3 linked regions of the Homo sapiens genome follow. The protein of the gene in region 2 interacts with the protein of the main gene of each other region in a pairwise test. Each region holds a gene or a part of one and is shown on either strand. Other genes may lie near its edges. The genes, in order: ETV5, SEZ6L2 and OASL.

Region 1 (5,405 bases), on a different chromosome or scaffold from region 2:
TTTTTATTTTAGACCTTTAAGTTTTATTAAAAAGCACAGTAAAATGTTTTATATGGAAAATAGGACATCCATGAAACTTGCCTTCAGCTAACCAAGCCTCTTGAAGTTGACTGAGATCCTGAAATAGCTCTGAAATTGAAAAAGAAGACCCCAGAATGAGGATATTTCTTTCGCTAGGGAGAAGACAGGGAAGAATCTACACGCTACTGTCACTGGGAGCAGGGAAGCCACAACATAATCAGGGAAAGCTTTACTACCTTCAGAATCGTGAGCCAGATCTGTGTCCAAAAACTTCCTCTTTCTGTCAATCACAGGCCGCCCTCTGCATTCCTCAGATCGAGATTTCTGAAAGAGGCCAACAGAAAGTGAAGGCTCAAGTGTAGTAAAGAGGTCCACAGGGGGAAGACTCATATTGGAGAGGGAGGACAAAACAAACCAAAAGCCACATAAACTTACCCCTGGGACCATAAAAGGGACTTGCTGATCATAAAACCCGTCCATGGTGCTTTCAGCGTCTCTAATACCACTTTGAGAGGTTTCAGCATTGAGTAATTTCTGGGGGAAAAGGGATCCTCCTGTAATATGAATTTGGGAGATTTTAACTAAGAGGGGGGAAAAAAAGAAATGAAACAATTTTAGACTGCCTTTTTTTTAGGGCCTGTGCAAAATTATTACCCTTCTGTGAAGTACTTAAAACCTACTCAAGGTGCAAGCTTTACACACCAATGCCGGGCTTGATTAATGGTATCAGAGGTACAGGATGTACTCCGTGCCAAATCCATTTACCCAGTCATCATTTTTTCTTTCTTATTTAAATCATTAAAATTACAGATTTGCTACTGTCTGTTCTCTACCAAAACAAAAATAAATAAATAAAATAAAATAAAAGGGTGATTTCAAGATTCTCTCATATACTCCAGGGCATTTGTAGTAGGGTTTTTAAAAAAGAGATAATTTAATTTTTGACAGTACAGTGTCAGGAAGCAGAGAAACTGGGTTTAAGTATTCCAAATTATTGGCAATTAAAGATCTGACATACATGGTGTTTCCAAAAGCATTTTGTAGGTCACTGTTAAAACACTATATATAGTTCCTGGAATAAATTGATCAGAGGTATACTTATCTTCACACACAACTCTTTATTTAAAAGAGGACTAAACAGATATAGCATCTGTAATGTCACAAATATCTCCCTGGTTACTTACAGAGATATTTGTGACATCTCCAACTTCTAAAAGAGTAAAATGTCTATGAAAAGTAATGGATTAAAAAAACTAATTCCATTGCATGTGGTACAATGCATCTCTACCAAAGGTCTTTTAAAACTTAGGCTGTTTCATATAGCGGAATCATTTTTTTCTAGACATACCCCCCCACCCCCAAATGAAACTCATTTCAGGACGGGTAAGTGTGTGAGTCTGGGGAAAAAGGGTGGGGTTAGAAGGGAGAAAACTTCTCCTAACGTGAGTGGAATAAAGTAACAATTTCAGGGAGGTACCATCTTCCTAAACACTTTTATTCTTCAAATAAAAACACCGTTAAGTCAACAAAAGGTGGAAAAACATTAATTTCACTCACTCCAGCTCTAAGCAATTCAAAATGCTTAAAGGTCAACTTCTTTTGTTTGACATATACACAATTTTAAACAGGAAACTTTTCCCCCGGTGAGCAATTCCATCCAATTTGTTTTTCACACTGTGTGTAGCATATCAAATTTTTCATAAGTGGGCAGGATACAAGGACACCCTTCACAGCCAGCATCCTCCGCAGCACTTTGGCCCAAGGAATCAGATATTTTCAAAGTCAAAGGAAAGAGAGGAGCAAAATAGCACACAGTTCATAACTTCCTAGAAAAACACTCGCGCCAGCCTGCCTGCGTGCCCCGTCCAAACACCACAAGAAATGTTCAGAATAACGCCTCTCTCAAATGCCACCAAACCGTATACAAAATCTGAGAAACCTCAGCAGTGAGTTGAGGGGCATGAAAGAGAGAGTGCTCTGTCGCTTAGGAAAATCTGTCAGATTAAATCATGGCCTAAGACATTTTGTGAATGTGTTAGGAGGAAGGGGACAACCAGTAGAAGACGGGAGGGGGAGATATTTTTCAGTCTCATGATGAAATACTTCACCCGGAAGAGCAAAAAAAATTCTAAAAAATTAAAAGAAATAAACTGCCATAAACGAACGGAAAAGAGGCATTCCAGGGTTAGAAAAATTGTATTCCAAGTATAATTTTTTTAAAAGCCTGAAGGAAAGGCTCGAGTTCATCCAGGAGTTTAAACCACTTCCTTTGCCCCCCCACCACCCGCGCCCCGGGCGCCCCCAGGAAAACTTTAGCACAGCGCAGCGGCGCGATCCAGGCCCCTCCCCTGTGGCGCGCAGCGGGCCCGGTTTTATGAATGGGAGAGCGAGCCGCGGCCGCCACATCAGGTAGAGGCTGTAACTGGATCTCTAGCGCTGGGCCCCATTCACAAAACAAGACACACTTCCACCCAATTCTCAGCCTTCCCCATTCATGAAAACTCCTTCAGCTGCGCCCCCGCCCCCATTTCCAACGCACGCCCAGCCTCCGACGCAGGCCCCTCACCCCAGCGTTTTAGGAAGAAAGCTCAATGCTTCATTCACAAAAAGGGAAGAAAAAAAAAAAAGCCGCAGGGAGCAGCGAGCCAACGAAAGAAACCCGCTTCATTCATAAAGTCACCCACATTCATAAAAACGAGGTGCGGCGCCCGGCGCTACCAACCGCTTCCAATCCCCCCACCCCCAACATCTCTCCCTGGCACCCCCTCGTCGACCAGGAGTTCGGTTCCCCCCCGAGTTTTCTCCACCCTCTGAAAATGCGGCCGGAACCCTAATCCGCTGCGAGGCTGCAGCATCTTTCGGTGCTGTCCCCTCCACACCCGTGTTATCCCCACCATCCCCAGGCCGCTGTTCCGGTGCGCCCCGATTTTCTCGAGTCGCCGCACAGCCGGACGCCCTCAGCCTGCTGGGTGGGAGCAGGGCGACTGGATGTCCACTTTCCACCACCTGAAACTTGCAAGGCCTGCGTAAGTTCCTGGTCGACCCCCGCCCCCGCAGGCTGCACTTGCCTGTGTCATTTACCCCCTCCCGGTGCTCTGGGGGGCAGCGCCTCTCAGACATTCCCCTCAAACTGCTTCCCGCCCCCTCCTCCCAACTGCGGAGCTCCGCCAAGCGTCTCTTCTCGCGAGCCTCCAAGTCCCCTCGGGGCTCTCGAATCTCCAGAGACTGTGAAAGCCTCGCAACTCCGCGATCCCCCATCCACTCGGGAGCCCCCGCACTCGCGCTCCGGGGCGCCTCCCCCACGACGTGTGGAAAGCCGCTCTCCCCGCGCTCCGGAACCGTTAGCCGCACCCGCCCGACGCCTCCCAGGAACCAAACCGGACCGGGCCGCGGGGGGAGGGGGCGGTCAACCCGGGGGGGGTCACCCCAGCTACTGCACCCCGACTTTGAAGATTCTGAATCAGCCCGTGAACTCTAGCCGGCTGGGCCTGTCGGACCAGTGGCCGGACGCCCCTTCCGATCTCCCCCCTGCCCCCGCAAAGCCCCCTCACCTGAGGCGGCCTCTCTCCTCCCCTTGCAGCGGCCCCGGCGGCGCAGGCGCGCTCACGCACGCGCGCAGCGGGCCTGGGCGCCTGGGCGAAAGGCTGGGCCGAACCGCTCCGAAGACGGTGAACCGCTCCGCGCACCAGCGGCTGGACTCTGCGCCGCAGCTGCCAACCAGGCTGGAGCGCTGGCCCGGCCCCCCGCGGCTCGCTGCTCCGCCCGCCGCCATTGGCCCGCGGCCCTAGCCCAGCCTTGTTCCCATTGGCCAGAGGCCGTTCCCGCGGCTGTCCATCACCTCTTGTTTACCCTGTCTGCGGGCAAATCCAACCAAGCCGCCCCATCAACTCCGGCCCCCATTGGCCAGCGGTGCATCTCTCTCCACCCCCTCAGGGGTCTGTTTTACATAATTTATGCACCGGGGGCCATTGGCCAATCAGCACAGGCTTGTTTATATAATGAATGTAAGGACGTTTTTCATTCATAAAAAACGCGACCTGAGGGGGAAGCTTAGCTGAGTCAGTGAAGCACTTAAAGGGGCCGAGGCCAGGAGGAGCCGCCGTTACTTCCCTTCTCGCCGCTCTCCCGACTTTTCACCGAGGCACGACTCTTCCCCCTTACCCACTCACCCCCACTTCTCCATCCAGCAAAGCCCCGACCAGAATTGGGTCTCTTGGCGCCAGACGTTCGCAGCTGCAGCACCAAGCAAAGTTATCATTTTAGAATTCAGGGGAGAGGAATTCGTCATTCCACACAAACTCGCTGACCGACCTGGGCGTTTAGCCCACAGAAACACAGAAAACGGAAACCGAGCCCTCTAATCTTAGTTACCTTTAAGAGAGGCCTTAATTTCTTTTAACCAGGTTTCCAGTGGGAAGAATAAGCAGCATCTCCTTTTAAAATCTCAGCTCTCAAACAGATTTTTGTTACTATTTTGTACTGGCAAGGCCTAAGACCCAACCAAATCCCGTTTTCTCTTTAACTGCGGCTCGTAACCTCCGCCAGAGTGGGTTCTGTAGTCGAGGTGAGACAGGGTTCGGGCTCAAAGAAATCCTCTCCGGGGACAGCAGCAGCCAGTCCACCGACCTGGAAACCTAAATCCCTCCGAAACGGGCATGCAGACTCAGACTTTTTGCCTCCCTCCCCGGGCTGCTTGTTTTCCATTTAAGTATTGAATGCAAGATGGTGTATTTGCGAATTAGATCCCGTGCAGCTGGGAACGACGAGAAGCGGCTCTGCTTGCCAAACGATAGGGCACTAACTGCAATTGCTGAGATTCTTAACAGGGTGTTCCAGGAAACAAATAAACAAACAATCCTCTCCCCTCTCCGCCCCCTTACCCCCTCCTGTGAAGGCCGTGGGGCGGCTCTATCTTCTCTCCGGGGATGCTGGGGGCCTGTGACGGAGCTCTGTTCTCGTCCTGCTGGAGTGCCCTGCCATTCACGCCGCGTGCCAGCGGTGGGGAGGAAAGATGCTAAGTGACAGGAGAGAGCCCCTAGCAATGGGGGTCCCACGGTGGCCAACTCTGGGGCAGTTCCTGCCCCTGCCACCCCCACACTTAAGTCAAAGGTTCTTTCCTATCTCCACTTGTGTCTCTTAAACAGAGCGGACACTTGGTCTGTCGTTTATAGCCCTTGAAATGTTGGCGTGCCCCTAAGCAACCTGCAGCACCCGTGTTGAGTCCTGGGCTCAGCACTGACCAGGCACGCTGGAGCTGTTGACTTTGGAAGACTGAAATGGGCATGAGTTGATGGATGGAAAGTACTCTGAACATGTAACAAGCAGTTCCTTGAGATCTAGTTTCCTGGTAGAACATTTTGCTTCCGACTCCAGTTTTCCCTTAG
Region 2 (5,429 bases):
AGGCTGGAGTGCAGTGGTGCAATCATGGCTCACTGCAGTCTCAAATTCCTGGGCTCAAGTGATCCTCCCTCCTCAGCCTCCCGAGTAGCTGGGCCCACAGGTGCACATCACCATGGTGAGACAATTTTTAAAACTTTTTGTAGAAATGGGGTCTTGCCACATTTCCCAGGCTGGACTCAAACTCCTGGCCTCAAGCGATCCTCCTGCCTTGGCCTCCCAAATCACTGGGATTACAGCTGTGCGCTGCTGTGCCCCCCTCACCATCTTTTATTTTTTTATTTTTATTTTTTTAAGATGGAGTTTTGCTCTTGTTGCCTAGGCTAGAGTGCAATGGCTGGATCTCAGCTCACCACAACCTCCACCTCCCGGGTTCAAGCAATTCTCCTGCCTCAGCCTTCTGAGTAGCTGGGATTACAGGCATGCGCCACCACGCCTGGCTAATTTTGTATTTTTAGTAGAGACAGGGTTTCTCCATGTTGCTCAGGCTGGTCTCGAACTCCCGACCTCAGGTGATCTGCCCGCCTGGCCTCCCAAAGTGCTGGGATTACAGGCTAGAGCCACCATGTCCATCACTATCTTTAAGCAATGCTCCCTCTCCCACCTGAGCCAGAACTCCCTTTCCCAACTGTTATATAGCTGAAACAATTGGAACACTGCCTGGTACATAGTAAGGGTACAGAAATGCTACCTTTGTTATTATTATTCTCCCATCTGTACCCAGGACTCCTTCCACAGTTCCCAGCAGCCTCTCTCCCATCCATCCCCAGCGTGTACCTCTCCGGTCCTCCCACCCCCATCCCCTTGCTGTCGCCTCACCTGGGCTGGTCACCGTAGTGGTAACAGTTGTCGTGGTGATGATGGTGGTCGTCGTCTCCTCCTCTCCTCCCTCAGGCCCAAGGGGAGGCCCTGGGGAGGCAGGGCTGGGTGGGGGTGGGGCTGTGGTTCCTGGGGGCGGGGTCAGCAGTTCTGGCGCAGTGGGGCCTGCCCCCCTGACCCCGTTAGGGGTGACGGCTGTTGTCAGAGGCCCTGTCCCCGGCTCAGTGGCCCGTGGCAGGGAGGGCACTGCGAGAGTCTGGCCGGCCGGAGGGGTGGCTAGCGTGGGGTCCCGATCAGATCCTGGGACAGTGCAGGGAATATCAGAGCACAGGAGGAGCACATGGAGGACCTTGGGTGGGGAGCAGGGCTGAGGGAAGCTAGGGGTTCCCCTGCCATACCACAAAAGCCTCCCGCACAAGGTACAGCACCCCCCACCTTTCCCTTCCCCACCCCAGCCCCTACCTCCTCCCAAGGCTTCCACAGCCTGAGTCCCCCCTCTTTCTCTTCTGGTCCCTTCTCTCCACCCAGCCCCTTCCACCCTGATACTCCTCTCCCTGAGCCTCTCTCTCTGCCTCCTCACTCAGATCACGTTCTCTCTCTGGTTATCTCCTCTCTCCTCTGTCTCATTCTCTCTCGAACTCTTTATTTCCCCATTTCCCTGTTTAGTATTCTGATTGCACTCTGATTTCATGATTCGAGATCCACTAGTTTTTGTGTTTCATTCTCTCTGTCTCTGTCTTCCACCATTTCTCTGAGTCTGGTTCTCTGAATTTCCATCTCTGTTTCTATGTGTCTGTTTTTCTGTCTGACTGTCACCTAATCATTCTGTCTCTGTCTCTCTGGTTCTGTCTGTGCCCAGGTTTGACTTTCTCTGACAGTCTCGTTCTGTGTTCCCTGAATCTCACAGGAATGCAGGCTCTTTCCTCTGCAGTCTCTCTCTGCCTGCTCTTCTCTAGCCTGGCTCCCCATCTCCCTGAGCCCATATCCCTCCCTCTGCCTCTAGGCCACTCCTGCCACTCTGGGGGCCTCACCTGGCAGGTAGCCCATCTCTGGGCCCCTCCTCAGCAGGGCCCCATGAAGCAGTTCAGCCAGGGCCTCAGAGGCCACCGTGGGGGTCTCACTTCCAGGCTCTGGCAATATCTCCTCCTCCTTCAGGGGCAGACCTAGGAGGTGAAGTTGTGTGAGCTTCTCCACTTCCCCACACCCCTTCCTTCTCCAGAGAGATATTTTCTAGAACTCTTCCTCCCTCCTCCATCAGCTGGGCCTGCAGGGGCTCAGATGGTCCCAGGCTCGACTGAGGGCCAAGATCGGAGGAGGGGCTCCCAGCTGCCCTCATACTCCCACTCCCACACCTCTTCTCTCCCCTCCCCTCTCCCTTCTCCCTGGGCTGTGTGGGCCTTCATTGAACACCTTAGCTCTTATGGACCCTGGACAGCGCCAGCAAGGCAGAGGGGTCGCCGGTGCTGCCTTCCCTTTCACCTCAGTGGTGATCTCCCCCCAACCCTGGGGCTCTGCAGAGGATCTGGCCGCACCTCCCAGCCCTTGCTTCCGCAGTGCCTGGCTTTCTCTCTGGGTTTCTGTCTCTGCAGTGTGGCTGTCTTTTCTCTCTCTCTCTCTCTCTCTCTCCCCCCCACCCTCTCTCTCTCTGGTCCTCTGCAGTCTCTGCCTCCTTCCCTGGAGTCTGGCTGGGGGTCAGAGTGGGGGACTGAAAATCTGGTCTTTGAGCCCTGCCTCTGCTCATCTGTCTTTGTCCATTCATCCAAGAACAGTTGTGTGTACAGCGCCTGGCATCTCTCTCAGCACCTCCATCTCCCACCCAGGTCCCTCCATGCTTCTGCCGCCTCCGCAGACATCCCCCCAACTTTCCCAGCCCTCCTTCTTGGATCTAGCCCCTGAGACACTGCTAAAAGCTTCTCTCATTCATTTCTCTGCCTTCTCAATATTGAGGGTTAAGGGGCTTCGGGTTCAAGCCTGAAAGCTCTGGCTTGCCCCTTCCCCATCAGCTGTGCCTCTCCCCTCCCCCATGTGCTCGGAAGACCCAGGATATTAAGAGAAAGGAGGGTGGAGGACCCCGCTGGACGCCTTCCTGGGGCCCACCCCCACAGTCTCATGTCCTTACCCTGGATCCAGGGACAGCTCAGCAGAATTAGGAACAGCAGCTGGGGAGGCGGCGGGTGCTGGGCCCTGGGAGTCCCCATGGCGACTCACCCCGATCTCTCTCCTCTGTGCCTCTCTAAGTAATCTGGCTGCCACCTTTCCTCCGTCTCCGTTTATCTTTCCCTTTAATTGTTTTTTTTTTTTTTTTTTTTTTCCTCGTAGGAGTCAGCAAAGAAAGACAATTTCTCTGCCCCTTGGGATGGAGGGGCAGAATTGGGCTAGGGGTCGCCTGGAGCCCACCCCCCTTTGCTCAGTCTCCTCTGTCCTCTTCTCGCGGCTCTGTGGTGGAGGGGGCGCGGCTCCGGCTGCAGGGGGTGGGGCCGAGAGGGCCGAAGGGGCCGGGTGGCCTGGGTTACCCTCCTGCTCAGGCGCCTGGGTCCACTGGGCTGTCTGGACCCCAAGCTAGGGGACTGGGGAGGAGAAAGACAGCTTCTGGGGGTTTAGGGTGGGGTCGAGGATCGAGGGGGTCTCCACTGGGCTCTAGCGGGGCTTGTCGGGGAGGGGAAGGGGTGGGTTGGGGAACTGGGAGAGCCGAAGCTCGGGCACTGGAGCTGCGGGAGGGAGAAGCTGAGAAAGGTATCGAGCCCACGTCAGATCCTGGGGACGGGCGGAGGGAGGGGCCTGGGATTTATTTGACGGGGAGGGAGGAGGAGGAAGTGCAGATGGAGGAGGGAGGGATCATACGAGCCAGGGCCGTAATCCTCACTCCCGCGGCCCCTAGGGGAGGCAAAGGAAACTCTCTGGTCCCAGCAGTAATTAGCCCCCTCCGCCTGCCATTCCAGCACATCTGGAATCTGAATCTCCTCTTCCCAGGGTGCCGAGGGGCTGCATAGCTTGGTTCGCGCCTGCTAGGCCCCCAATTATGCCCCCTGTTCACATTCAGACCTCCCAAGGGGCTTCCCTTCCCCTTTTACAGTAGCTCGGGTGGAATGGGCTCTCCCTCCTCCAGGGGAATAGAGAGCTTCCACGATTGTGACAAGTCTCGTGGGTGACGGGCCGGGGTTTGGGGAGGAGAGACAGACCCCTCCTCTTCCATAAACCCTGACCCCGGCCAGCTAACAGGCGGCCTCGGCTCTGATTTTCCCTCCGGAGCGCCCTTTTCAGCACCAGCGGCGCGCGGACAGCTCCCCTCGCCCCGCCGGGGCGGGCCCGGCCCGACGCCGCCCGCGATTGGCTGAGGCCGCTTTCGGTGTTTGCCAGGCTCGCGGGCTCCCGGGCTGCCTAGGGCCAGCGGGAGTCACAGGCCGACCGACCGACGGACCAGCCGCCCGACGGACTGGCCTCAGCATCCTTGCCCGCAGTCCCGGGCGCCTGCCCAGCCGTCAGTCCGCGCTCGCCCCGCCCCTCAGGCCCCGCCCCTCAGGCCCCGCCCGATACGACCCGCCCCTTCTTTCGCATTGCGGGACGGCTGGAGGCTGGCACCGTGGCCCCTGCGCCCCACGTGGCGCCCTTTCCGGGCGGGGGGGGTGGGGAGGCACCTCCAGCGACAACTCTCCCCCCTCCCCCGGCACCCGGCTGATTTGCTGTGCCACTGGGAGGGTTCGGGGGTGGCTGAGCTGAGAGGGCTCCGGGAAGGAGTGACGTCAGGGTGAGTGGGAGCCCAGGAAGGAGCGAGTAGGAGAGAGGGAGCGAGAGCCAGGCAGGACCGCAGGGTCGGGGCTAGTGAGGAGCGAGGGCAAGGAGAGAGCAGTGAGGCCGGAGAGAAAGAAGCTGCCGCGGAGGAAGACAGGCTGCGGGTTCCCGGGACTGCAGGTCCAGGCAGGGTAGGAACCGCTGCCCAGGGGAGCTAGGAGGAAGCGGGGAGAGAGAGCGAGCGAAAAGCGGGGGTGGGGAGGAAAGGGGGAGATTGAGGTGGGAGAGAGAAGCAGAGCGAGAGAGAGGAGGCTGCTGGAAGGAGAAAGAAGAGGGTGAGGAGGCGACAGAGGGAGAGGAGGAAGAAGAGGTAGAAGGAGAGAGAAAGGGGAGAGAAAGGAGAGAGGAGGGTTGGAGGTGCATGAAGGAGGGGAGAGGGAGCTTCAGCGTGGAGAGAGGACCGCGGAAGGAGAGAGAGACAGCCCAGAGTGGAATGTGGAAGGGAAACAGTCCAGCGGGGAGCCAGGGGGCAGCCATGGAAGGGACAGGTGGGGAGCTGGGGGGACAGGGGAACTGGGGTCCGGAGGACGCCCCAGGCCTCTTGGCCAGGGCCTCCCTGATCATGCTCCCGTGGCCACTACCCCTGGCCTCCTCGGCCCTCACCTTGCTCTTCGGGGCCCTCACTTCCCTGTTCCTCTGGTACTGCTACCGCCTGGGCTCCCAAGACATGCAGGCCCTAGGGGCTGGGAGCCGAGCTGGGGGTGTTCGTGGTGGGCCTGTGGGATGCTCGGAGGCCGGCGGGCCAAGCCCAGGGGGTCCTGGGGATCCCGGGGAAGGACCTAGGACGGAAGGCCTAGTGAGCCGGCGGCTTCGGGCCTACGCAA
Region 3 (5,504 bases), on a different chromosome or scaffold from region 2:
TCCCCCCGAAGGCCAGTCTAGACTTCCCTTTCTTTTTGAGACAGGGTCTTGCTCTGTTGCCCAGGCTGGAGTGCAATGGCACGATCTTCACTCACTGAAGCCTCGACCTCCTGGGCTTAAGCAATCCTCCCACCTCAGCCTCCGGAGTAGCTGGAACTACAGGCATGCACCGCCATGCCCAGCTAATTTTTTATATATATTTTTGTAGAGTCGGGGGTCTCACCATTTTGCCCAGGCTGGTCTCGAATTCCTGGGCTCAAGCAATCCTCCCACCTTGGCCTCCCAAAGTGCTGGGATTACAGGCGTGAGCCACTGTGCCTGGCGTAGACTTCCCTTTCTGCCTTTCCCACTGGTAAGATCCAGGCAGAGAGAAAAGAACACATCCAGAACAGGCTTCCTGATTTGCTTCAGTTTTAAACCTATTTAAGCACAATTCATTTGAAGACGAGCATTCCCTTATGTGGACCAGCTCCGCTCACTAGATTTTCAGAGGGTGGGGAACGGGAGGGTTTAGACTCTAAATAAGATATATTATTCCTCATTAGTCATGGCTCACTGGGGATTGCTACCATTTAGTGGTTTCAAGAGGAAAAGTGGCTATGATGTGCAGGAAGTATTTGAGGCTTAGGTAAATAGCATTTCCTGCCGTAAAAACTCATTCTTGGCCGGGCGTGGTGGTTCACACCTGTAATCCCAGCATTTGGGGAGGCCGAGGTGGGTGGATCACTTGAGGTCAGGAGTTCGAGACCAGCCTGGCCAACATGATGGAACCCCGTCTCTACTAAAAATGCAAAGATTAGCCAGGCGTGGTGGAACACACACACACACAATAAACTTATTCTTGTAGCATCCTCCTCTTACCAGACATTCCTTATTCCCTCCACTTTATTCTCAAGTTTGTTGGGGAGGGGGTGGTCTAGGAGGGTCTGCCAGAGTCAGACTTGAGTCCCAGGCCCAGAAGAAAGCTTGGCAAGAATTATAATGATGCTTCTGTTTCTGAGCATTTATCGTGCATGAATCATTCAGCCTGCATTGCACCACTGGCTTGGTGAGGGAGAGATGATGATGATGCCCCAATCACAGATGAAAAGAATGTGGGTTTGAGAAAGAAGAGTGGGAAGGTCAAAACCACACAGCTGGTAAAGGAAGAAGCGAAGAGTCTGTCTAATATCAAAATTTGTGGTTTCTCACTTATAAATTGTATGGCCTCAGGCTTCATATGCTGGGGATAGGTGCAAAGAACGGATAGGGGCCCAGGGCTTCTAGATCCCTCTGTGAGTTGGTTGCCCCTAGAGAGAGAACTTGAGCACTGGGCTGGGAGTCAGGGGTCCTAATTCTAGTCTTGCCTTTGCCACCAACTCGCTGTGTGACCTTGGGGTATCTCTCACCCTCTCTGTGCCTCGGTTTACTTAATTTTTTAAGTGAGTCATTGGTGAGACTGTCTGATTCTCCAAAGTCTTTCTAGCTCCGACCCTCTTGAATTTTGATCTTAGCTAGCACAGGCGGTGGCATGAAACAGCTGGAGGAAGGGCTTGGGGGAAAATCTCAGTGAGGGGGGCTTGGGTCCCTTGAGTCAAGTTCAAATCCCAGCTTCAACACTGTGTGACCTTGGGCAAGTCACCTCACCTCTCTGAGCCTCCATTAAAAAATCATTTTAGGCCGAGTGCAGTGGCTCACTGTAATCCCAGCACTTTGGGAGGCCGAGGAGGGCAGATCATGAGGTCAGGAGATCGAGACCATCCTAGCCAACACGGTGAAACCCTGTCTCTACTAAAATACAAAAAATTAGCCGGGCGTGGTGGTGGGCGCTGTCGTCCCAGCTACTTGGGAGGCTGAGGCAGGGGAATTGCTTGAACCTGGGAGGCAGAGGTTGCAGTGAGCTGAGATCGTGCCACTGCACTCCAGCCTGGTGACAGAGCAAGACTCTGTCTCAAAAAAAAAAAAACAAAAACAAAAATCATTTTATTGGCCGGCCAGACATGGTGGCTCACACCTGTAATCCCAGCACTTTGGGAGGCCAAGGTGGGCATATTCTTGATCCCAGGAGTTCGAGACCAGCATGGGCAACATTGGTGAAACCCTATCTCTACAAAAAATACAAAAATTAGCTGAGCATGGTGGTGCATGCCTGTAATCCCAAGCTATTTAGGAGGCTGAGGATCACCTGAGCTCAGGGAGATTGAGGCTACAGTGAGTGGTGATTGTGCCACTGCACTCCAGCCTGGGTGACAGAGCGAGACCCTGTCTCTAAAAAAAAAAAAAGTCATTTTATTATCAAAAAGTTAAAACACATAGAAAAATAGATGATACAACTAACACTCATATACCCAACTAGTTGATTCAACAAGTCTAAATTCCTGGCTACATGTGCTTAATCTAAGCCACGTTAAAGTAAATTATAGGCACCAAGGAACTTTGTCCCTAAAATACTTCAGTGTTCGTGTCCAAACAAAAGACAACCTTCTGATAACCACAAAACTACTGTTACACCTAACAAAATCAACAATGATTTCCCATATCAGATATATGTACTATCTGATATCTAGGCCAGTTGTCCCCAAACTATATTTTACAGATGGTTCATTCACACTAGGATCCAACCAAGGACCTCGCATTGTATTGGTTCTGAGCCTCCATTTGCTAATCTGTAAACTGGGCAAAGAATAGTACCTATCTCACAGAGTGCAAGAATTAGAGATAGTGTATGTTAAGAGGTTAGTCCAGTGAGCCCCCAAATGTGAGCTATTATTACTAGACTCATTCTACTCAAGGCAGTGGTGCAGTGGGGTGTAGACAGCTAGGTGGGATGGGGTATTCTGAGATGTCATCAGCATGGGCTAGGGATAAGGAGGACAGGGGTCCCCAGCATCCCCAGGGACGTGGACTCTGATACTGGGTTTTGTCTTGCGTGGGGGCTGGAGGAGCCCAGTCTTACCTTGACTACCTTCAGCACCCGCACATCCTGGTCCAGCCCACGCTTCCCCTGGAAATGCTCCTGCCTCAGAAACTCCTCCACGGTCCGCACAGCGTCTAGCACCTCTTCCTTCCACTCCCGGTGGGGCTGCAGCCACTGAGCCACGAAGGAGTCCAGCCTGGAGGCTGGTGTGCTATACAGTTCCTGCATCAGTGCCATCTCTGTCCCGAGAGTACCGCTGCTGGGCAGATATATAGCCAGGCTCCTACCCAGCTCCCTGGCACACACCTCCTTTTTTAAGGTAGCTCCTCCTCAGCTGCCCTCCAGTGCTCTGTGGGAGGAGGGACCCTAGCAGAGAGGAAACCAGGTGTGACGGGCTGACTCCAGGTCCCCCTTCTTGGAGACACCCTTGCTGCAGTAGGGGCACAGGAGGACTCTGGGCTGAGGCTGGAATATCTGGGGCCACCTTAACAGGCTGGCCGTCTAGTCAATCTGTCATCAGTTTCGATTCTCAACTTTTAGAGTTCTCCTTTATGACGTTGGGAAACTGAAGTTGGATAGTGTTTGACCCCAAAGGAGGCAACTTGCCCAGTAGGTTGGGGTTGGATAGTTGTTAGTCAATTCAACTGCTTACATCTGTCTAAGGAAATTGAGGCTTGGGAACGGAAGGGACTCACTAGTGTTCAGGTGGTGGAGTGAGAATCTGGAGCCCAAGAGAACAGACTGGGAATTCTAGTCTACCTGTGCCAGACTCTAACCTCTTTGACCCTCACTATTCATAGAGTGGGTTTTTTTGTTTTTTTGTTTTTTTTTTTTTTTGGCCGGGTCTTGCTCTGTTGCCCAGGCTGGAGTGCAGTGGTGCAATCTCAGCTCACTACAACCTCTGCCTCACGGGTTCAAGCGATTCTCCTGCCTCAGCCTCCCTAGTAGCTGGGACTACAGACATGTGCCACCACGCCCGGCTAATTTTTTTTTTGTATTTTTAGTAGAGACGGGGGTCTCACCATTTTGGTCAGGCTGGTCTCAAACTCCTGACCTCAAATGATCCGCCCACCTCGGCCTCCCACAGTGCTAGGATTACAGCGTGAGCCACCGCGCCCGGCCCATAGAGTGGGTTTAACAGGTATTATGATTCACGCACTGAACCAAGAAGTTCATGCATTGAGCCAAGAAGACAAAATAAGATGAGGTTCCTGTTCCAAGGGGACTCCCAGAACGGTGGAGGAGACACAGAAAAAAGAGACTGCAAAAGTCCAGTGCGATGAGTTAAGTAGGAAAAAAGCATGAAAACATGAAGCCGGCAGATGAGTTTCATTTGGTGTTAGCAGACACCTGCTTGAGAGGAATCTTAAAGACTGGGGATCCGGGCTGGGCATGGTGGCTCATGCTTGTAGTCCCAGCACTTTGGGAGGCCAAGGTGAGAGGATCACTTGAGGCCAGGAGTTCAAGACCAGCCTGGGCAACATAGCTGGACACCTGCAACTTCCCAAACTCTGAATAATATTAAGTGCTCCAGGGCTTAGTCCTGGGTCCTTTTCTCTTCTTGTTCTAGACTTACTCCCTTGGTGATTTCAGCCAGCGTTTAAATGTTTTTACTCTGGCAACTTCCACATTTTAATTTTATTTTTATTTATTTGTTTATTTTTGAGATGGAGTCTCACTGTCTCGCCCAGGCTGGAGTTCAGTGACACAATCTCGGCTCACTGCAACCTCTGCCTCCCAGGTTCAGGCGATTCTTGTGCCTCAGCCTCCCAAGGAGCTGGGATTACAGGAGCCCGCCACCGCGCCTGGCTAACTTTTTGTATTTTTAGTAGGGACAGTGTTTCACCATGTTGCCCAGGCTGGTCTTGAACTCCTGATCTGCCCTCCTCGGCCTCCCAAAGTGCTGGGATTACAGGCGTGAGCCACCATACCCAGTGACTCCCACATTTGTATCTTAAATCCATACCTCTTCCCTGAAATCCAGACTCATGTATCCAACTCCCCACTCCACATTGGCTTTGAATTCCGGTCTGCCCTTTGCCACACTTGTAACTTCTCTGCTTCTGTGGTGAGGATGATTGCAAGGGCAAGAACAGATGTAGGGAGATGGTCAGGACACTGCACAGTGGTGCAGGTGAGAGGCAGTGGTGGCCTGGAGTTTAAAACTCCAGTTTTTGTTTTAAAAACAAAAAGTTTTTTAAAAAATAGCTAGGTGTGGTGGTGTCCACCTGTAGCCCCAGCTACTTGGGAGGCTGAGGTGGGAGGACCACTTGAGTCTAGGAGTTTCAGGCTGCAGTGAACTATCATGGTGCCACTGCACTCCAGCCTGGGTGACAGCATGAGACTCTGTCTCCAAATAAAAAATAAAAAAGACTGGCACTCCAGCCAGGAGGATGAGGGTACAGCATAGAGGCTGAGAAGTATAAATAATGCTAGGATATGCCAGGGACTCAAGTGTGCTGTGTGCCTTGGGATGAAAGGGTGAGCAGGGGAGAGGTTAGAAATGTACCTGGACAGGTGGGCAGGATTGAATCTTGGAGTGCTATTCACTCATTCGTTCACTCATTCAACAGATACTTACTGGGCACCTACTCTGTGCCAGGCAGGT

Evidence for each region.
Region 1: the proteins of SEZ6L2 (region 2) and ETV5 interact in a two-hybrid assay, tested with the Homo sapiens proteins (one large-scale study listed by BioGRID and IntAct).
Region 3: the proteins of SEZ6L2 (region 2) and OASL interact in a two-hybrid assay, tested with the Homo sapiens proteins (one large-scale study listed by BioGRID and IntAct).

Annotation. Positions count from the first base shown.
Region 1 is NC_000003.12:186,105,368-186,110,772, forward strand, and holds the start of ETV5 (ETS translocation variant 5), read right to left. Parts: upstream 3,723-5,405; 5' UTR 3,573-3,722; intron 576-3,572; 5' UTR 502-575; coding exon 457-501; intron 346-456; coding exon 258-345; intron 130-257; coding exon 82-129; intron 1-81. UniProt on the Homo sapiens protein: Binds to DNA sequences containing the consensus nucleotide core sequence 5'-GGAA.-3'.
Region 2 is NC_000016.10:29,896,006-29,901,434, forward strand, and holds the start of SEZ6L2 (seizure 6-like protein 2 isoform 5 precursor), read right to left. Parts: upstream 3,546-5,429; 5' UTR 3,015-3,545; coding exon 2,936-3,014; intron 1,980-2,935; coding exon 1,848-1,979; intron 1,117-1,847; coding exon 817-1,116; intron 1-816. Other genes in the region: ASPHD1 (aspartate beta-hydroxylase domain-containing protein 1), read left to right, coding at 4,967-5,429. UniProt on the Homo sapiens protein: May contribute to specialized endoplasmic reticulum functions in neurons.
Region 3 is NC_000012.12:121,035,839-121,041,342, forward strand, and holds the start of OASL (2'-5'-oligoadenylate synthase-like protein), read right to left. Parts: upstream 3,409-5,504; 5' UTR 3,134-3,408; coding exon 2,936-3,133; intron 1-2,935.